Linked DNA regions of Homo sapiens. The gene in region 1 interacts genetically with each later gene. Each region holds a gene or a part of one and is shown on either strand. Other genes may lie near its edges.

Region 1 (3,500 bases):
CTCAGCGCAGCCCTGCTGCTCTGAGCATCACCAGTGGCCTGTAATGTCCACTTTGAGAGCAAATGAATGGACAAAGGCGTTCTGGCTTCCTGCCTGAGACACGGTAGGGACAGGGAGCCGCGCTTAGCCTTTAAGGGCCCTGGGGGCTGGGCGGGCCCCCCTGGCAGGAAAGGAAACCCCGGGGTACTGGGTGAGCCCCAGGCCTCACCTGAGTGACAATGATGTATTTGACCCCACCGGGGGTCGGCTCCATGGCCAGCGCAGCCTGAAGCTCAGCTGAGAGAGGGGCCGGCCTCACCTGCAGCCCCTTCAGAAACCTGGAAAAGCAGGGCAGGGGCACGGTGAATGCATCCGTTTCTCTAAGCGTCTACAACAGTCTACAACAGGCAAGTCCAGAGATGGGAAGTGCATTCCTGGCCGTCAGGGCTCAGGGAGGGGGAGACGGCAGGTGGCTGCTGTGGGGACAGGTTTCTTTTAGGGGTGATGAAAAAGTTAAGGAGGTGGCTTGAGGTGGTGCTCACATGACCCTGTGAATGTCCTCAACACCGCAGGATTATATGCTCTCGAATGGCTGAGACAGGAAATTTTAGGTTATGTGGTAAACAGCTATGCCCAGGCTGGACCCACATCTGGCCAAGGGTGCTGCCAAGCCCCATGGGGTAACAGCTCAGGGAAGCGCCCAATTCAAGCTGGTGCGTTCGTCACCGTGTTCTGCAGAACAGCGGAAGCCTGCAAGCCCCACCCGGAGCAGCAGCCACGAGCCTGGTGCTTCCCAGGCGGGCAGTCCTGGGGTGTGGGTCTGAGTCCACCCCACAGGGCAGGCCCCTGACCATTAGAAGGTGTTATTGCTCCCACCCGGGACAGACGCACATCCCCACACGCTTCCAGACACCCTTAAATGGGAGGCGCCTCTCACATTGAGAATAAGACACCATGAAAACACGGGAGGGAAGAAATCAACAGCCCCGGGGCGTAAGGAGGCTGGGCCAAGCTGTGCACCGAGGAGGGCGTACATGGGGGCTCTGTGGCACCCCCACAGAGCAGCGCAGGGGAAGAGGCGGTTCAGGGCCAAGCTGTGCACCGAGGAGGGCGTACATGGGGGCTCTGTGGCGCCAAGATGCAGCTGCCGGACCCCACCCAAGAAAAGACACCCAACTGCCGGGGCGGGGTCAACACCCGGCCGCCTTGACTGGCTCTAACTCGCTTCAGTAAGAAGGAAATCAGGGGCTTTGACTCCTTTCCTTCAAAATGTCGGACACTTACGCACACATCTGGGAGTGCAGGCGTGTTTCCTAAGCCACTGTTCTATAGAATAAGAGCCTGCGGGGTCCCGAGCTGCAGGGGACGCTGTCACTCAGGAGGTGGGAGACCCTGGGCGTTGCTCACACACGCGTGAGCGGCCTCTCTTTCTTCCCTGTGGACGTGGGCTGTGGGATGGCTCTATGGGGACACCCTGCCCGTGGCTCCCACACTCGGGGGACTGCTGCCTGCCCTGGGACTCCCTGTCTCAGCGCCACAGCCTTCAGGTGCCTCCGTCTCTTCCGACCAGAGTTCCTGGCACCATCTCCCAAAAAGGAGGAGGGGCGGGGTCCACACTCACGTGTCTCCATTCGAGCCTGGGGGAAAGCCGTGCCACACAGCAGCCACAAACTCAGCCACAGTGTCGTCCAGGGTGAAGATCACGGCATTGGGGCCCGCGTCAAAGGTGTACGCCACCTGGAACCCACAGCAGTCACCCTGGCTATTCACGTGGTGCCTGACCCTTGTCTCCCCAACCCTCTGGTCTGCCAGGCGGCCTTGGGCTCTCCAAGAGCTCAGTCTAGGCCCTCAGGGCCACACTGGAGTGGAGCTGTGACCCCAAGTGCCTGGTACTTGACACGTCTGCCTGTGAACCCAGGAAGAAGGTGGTGGGGCCGTGACCCGGGCAAGTCAAGAAACAAAATGAAACAGAAGAACCCAGATGGTCAGTGAGCTTCGCACACAGCAGGGTGGAGCTTTCAGACACAGATTGCCCTGCACGCGAGCCCCGGGGCCGTCTCCACGGCAGCACAAGCCTAGACACGCGCTACAGCGCGAGCGCAGCCTCTGCCCTCCCGGCCCGCGTCACCTTGGTGTCCCCGTGGTGGGCGTTGAAGCGGTGCACCAGGTGGATGATGCGCCAGGAGATGGCATTGAGGTAAGAGATGGGCGGGAAGGTGTCGAGGCAGGTGGCGTGGAACTGGTTGCTGTCCTTCATGGTCAGCTGGGCGAAGCTGGGGAAGTCTCGCTCCCGGATGCAGCGGGCCATCTCCGCCATGCGCGCGGGCACCACGGACTCGGCCCGGAACTGCAAGGCACAGGGTGTTTCCCATGGAGCCGCTGGGGGTCTCGACAGCAGAGGGTTCGAGGAGAGACTCCGGGGTTGGAGGCCCGGCTCGAGCCCCATCTCTGCATTTGGCTCCTGCACGTGGTCTTGGCGGGGCTGCCGCAGGTGTGAGAACACTCGGGCCCAGACAGAGGCTGAGGGCAGAGCCGGGCACAAGCGTGACTCCCAGGGCCCCGGGACCACCCGCTCCTGGCCTTACCCGAAGCAGGGGGCTGGTCTCCACACTGGCCCGCATGCCCACGGTACTGCCTGTCAGCTTCTTCTCAGCGCTCACCTGCACGAGGGAGAGACAGCCTGGGCCACACCCTGCAGGGGGCCAGCCCCAAGGACCTCAGCCTCAAACACTCGGCCCTCCCTCAGCCAATGCAGGCAGCGGGGGTGGGAGTCAGTGCCACCTGCCTGACCACAGAGGCCTCCCGGCCACAGCAGGGGTGACGCAGGGGCAACTTCCAGATCCCAGCGGGTGGTGGCGCCCGCCGCATGGGAGCGGTTCCTGAGCACTCAACCACGCTTCTGTTCCTTCAGCCCCCGCTGACCCCAGGAGCCAAGCAAAGCCTGGATGGACGCCTTCGCTCCTGCTCCCGGCAGCAGCCCTGACTAGGGACAGAGGCCACCGGGCTGCTGCTCCACCCGCCCCACCCCACTCACCACAAGGATGAGCACGCGGAGTTCAGGCCAGTGTGACTCGGGGGCCACTTGCCGAGCGATGCTGTCCTTCCCGTCGGCCTGCTCTCCCATCTGCCACTCCACAAAGCCCCCATACAGGCTCCGGCAGGCGCTGCCTGAGCCCCGGCGAGCCACTTCTGAGAGGTCACTCTCCACGCCGTAGACACGGGCCAGGGTGTAGGCTGCAGGCATGCGGATTCAGGGAGGGTCCTCAGAGCTGCCTGCGCTGTGCTCCCTGACAGCTCACCGCCCCAGGAACGTCCCACACCCCACGGCAAATGGGGATTTCCAGATGACAGGGCTTCTGGGCCATCAGCCTTTGAGGCCAGCATTCACCGGCCCAGCCGTCTGTCCCCCACCTCCGCTAGTTCCACTCTCGGACACTCTCTGTTCACGGCCTGCAGAGCTTGCGGCCCGCGACAAGGGCAACAAAAGGTACCTGCGGCAGAGCAGGAAGCCCCATGGAAGG
Region 2 (3,500 bases), on another chromosome or scaffold:
ATGATGTATCTAAAAAGTTTAAAGTCTTGCTTTTGTAGAATAGTCAAGAGTACAGAAGGCTGTGGAGTCAAACAGGCCTAGGTTTCAATCCCAGCACCACCACTACCGATGCAGTCTGGAGCAAGTTACTCCACTGCTCTAATCCCCCAAGAACTTCATTTATAAAACAGGGATATTACCTACCTCATAAACATTATTTAAAAATTTTTATTAAATATTATATGCATGGCATTAGCAAAGACTCAAAAAATAAAAACTATAATTACTCCTTAATGTCAGCTTATTATATTCAATTTAAACCCACCTATAATGGTGAATATCTTCAAATGATTTAGTATTATTTATGGCAAATACACAAAGAAAGCCCTCCCCAGTCCTCATGTACTGGTCCCTCATTGCACTGTACTCCTCTTGACCTGCTGTGTCGAGAATATCCAAGAGACAGGTTTCTCCATCAATTACTACTTGCTTCCTGTAGGAATCCTGAGAAGGGAGAAACACAGTCTGGATTATTACAGTGCACCTTTTACTTCAAAAAAGGTGTTATATACAACTCAACAACAAAAAATTCAATTTAAAAATGGGCAAAGGACTTGAAAAGACATTGTTCCTGCTCCAAAGATGACGGACAAATGGCCACTAAGCACCTGAAAAGATGCTCAACATCATCAATAGTCAGGAAAATAAAATCAAAACCATGAGATGCTACCACATACCCATTAGGATTGGCTATTATTAAAAAAACAAAACAAAAAAACTCAAAAAATGGAAAATAAGTGTTAGCAAGGATACAGACACTGAAATCTTTGTGCATTGCTGGTGGGAATGTAAAATGGTGATGCCATTGTGGAAAACAGTGGTAGTTCCTCAAAAAGTTAAACACAGAATTACCATATGATCAGCAATTCCATTCCTAGGTATATAACCAAAATAACTAAAAACAGGGACTCAAACAGATACATGTACACCAATGTTCGCAGCAGCACTATTTATAATACCCAAAATGTGGAAATAACTTAAGTGTCTGTTAACAGATGAATGGATAAACAAAATGTAGTATATACATACAGTGGAACATTATTCAGCCATAAAAAGGAATAAAATTTCATATAGGTTGAGCATTAATGCAGGTTAATCCAAAAATCTGAAATCCAAAATGCTCCAAAACCTGTAACTTTTAGAGCCTGACATGATGCTAAAAGGAAATGCTCACTGGAGCATTTGATTTTGGATTTTTTTTTCTTTCATCTTTTTTTTTTTTTTTTTTTTTTTGGAGAGATAGGGTCTTGTGTTGCTCAGGCTGGTTGAACTCCTGGGCTCAAGCGATCCTCCTGCCTTGGCCACCCAACGTGTTGGGATTACAAGCATGAGCCACTGAGCTCCATCTGATTTTGGATTTTTGGACGAGGGATGCTGAACCAGTTAAGTATCTATGAATATTCCAAAATCCAAAAAAAAAATCTGAAATCCAAACCACTTCTGGTCACAACCATTTTGGATAACGGATGCTTCAACCTGTATATACATGCTACAACACAGATGAACCTTGAAAACATTATGCTAAATGAAGTAAGCCAACACAAAAGGACAAATACCACATAATTCCACTTATATGAGGAACCTAAAATAGGCAAATTCAAAAAGACGAAAAGTAGACTACAGATTACCAGGGGCTGGGGGAGGGAGGATTACTGGGGACTATTTGACAGGTACAGAATTCTAATTTGGGATGATAAAAAAAAGTTCTCAAAACAGATAGTGCTAATGGTTAGACAACATGGTGATGGTTGCACAACATTATGAACACACTTAAGGTCACTGAATTGAACACTTAAAATTAACTACCATGGTCTAGGCGCGGTGGCTCACACTTGCAATCCCAACACTTTGGGAGGCCGAGGTGGGCGGATCATGAGGTCAGGAGATCAAGAACATCCTGGCCAACATGGTGAAACCCCATCTCTATTAAAATACAAAATATTAGCCGGGCGTGGTGGCGGGCGCCTGTAGTCCCAGCTACTCAGGAGGCTGAGGCAGGGGAATTGCTTGAACCCGGGAGGCGGAGGTTGCAGTGAGCCAAGATCGCTCCACTGCACTCCAGCCTGGCAACAGAGCAAGGCTCCGTCTCAAAAAAACAAAAACAAAACAAATGAAAGAAAACTACCATGGTAAACTTTATGTTATGCATATTTTACCACAAAAAAAAATTTTTTAAAGGTATTATATGGAGAGTCAACAATGCAAGTGTACATGCTGGTAACAAAAAGTTATTGACAAAACAAAATAATTTCAAAAATGGGATAGCTCTACCAACTCTATTATTCAAGATGATTTAAATGACAAGAAAAATCAATCAACTTATAAATAATTGTCATGCATCTATTTTATCTATAGTCAAAGGCACACATAAGGAAATGGGCAATACTCAAGATTCTAATGGCCTCATCCACTTCTGAAAACTGTGGAAAAATAATCTAACAGCCAGATGGATATCTCTAAAGAGCAATATTGTTTCATCTGCAAATCCTGAGGGGCCTCTTTTTTCTTTTCTAAAAAGAGAGAGAACTGCAACTATAAGATTAAGTAAAAGAAGGGAGTGGGTAACTTTAACAGAATCTTGAAATAAAAATCTGATTTTCTTCTGACTTTTGGGTAATACTTCTGCTCAAGATTTCACACATTCTGCCAAAACAGTCCTCAAAAAATATGGTAAAGGGATGTTACAATGTGAAGCCATGAAATCATGAAATAAGAAGCAGGGCTAACAACAGGTATAAAGCATAAACATAAAAGCAATTATTTTCTTAATGTTCCACATGTAGGCTATAGTATTAATGTATCTTTTTTTTTTTTTTTTGAGATGGAGTCTCGCTCTGTCGCCCAGGCTGGAGTGCTGTGGTGCAATCTCGGCTCACTACAACCTCTGCCTCCTGGGCTCGAGTGATTCTCCTGCCTCAGCCTCTTGAGTAGCTGGGATTCTAGGTGCACGCCACCACGCCCGGCTAATTTTTGTACTGTTTTTTTAGTAGAGATGGGGTTTCACCATGTTAGTCAGGCTGGTCTCTAACTCCTGACCTCGTGATCTGCACGCCTCAGCCTCTCAAAGTGCTGGGATTACAGGCATGAGCCACTGCGCCCAGCCTCTAAAGTATGTTTAGTTTATGAATTACTCTGTAGACCATTCTATCAGAGGGAGAAAGAGAGAAAGAATGGTCATTACAAATGTTGTTAGTAAAGTATTTCAAAATGTTTACAGTATAAGGAGAATATAAAGATGTCTAAGTGCAGCATGATCACAATAATATGTGTTTATGTATTTATACAAATCTACTATGTGTTTAAAAACTGGTAATATATACATCAAAATGTTATAAAGGTTATGTCTTTAATGGAGATAATTTAAAAGACATTTATCTTGGCCGGGTGCGATGGCTCATGTCTGTAATCCCAGCACTTTGGGAGGCCAAGGTGGGCAGATCACCTGAGGTCGGGAGTTTGAG

What was found. Genes that interact genetically often act in the same process or in processes that back each other up.
Region 2: changes in MVD (region 1) and KRAS are lethal when combined (synthetic lethality), as found in Homo sapiens cells (2 studies listed by BioGRID, with this or other methods).

Annotation. Positions count from the first base shown.
Region 1 is NC_000016.10:88,653,092-88,656,591, forward strand, and holds part of MVD (diphosphomevalonate decarboxylase), read right to left. Parts: intron 3,214-3,500; coding exon 3,014-3,213; intron 2,640-3,013; coding exon 2,565-2,639; intron 2,327-2,564; coding exon 2,108-2,326; intron 1,717-2,107; coding exon 1,601-1,716; intron 318-1,600; coding exon 209-317; intron 1-208. UniProt on the Homo sapiens protein: Catalyzes the ATP dependent decarboxylation of (R)-5-diphosphomevalonate to form isopentenyl diphosphate (IPP).
Region 2 is NC_000012.12:25,226,930-25,230,429, forward strand, and holds part of KRAS (GTPase KRas), read right to left. Parts: intron 484-3,500; coding exon 305-483; intron 1-304. UniProt on the Homo sapiens protein: Ras proteins bind GDP/GTP and possess intrinsic GTPase activity. Plays an important role in the regulation of cell proliferation.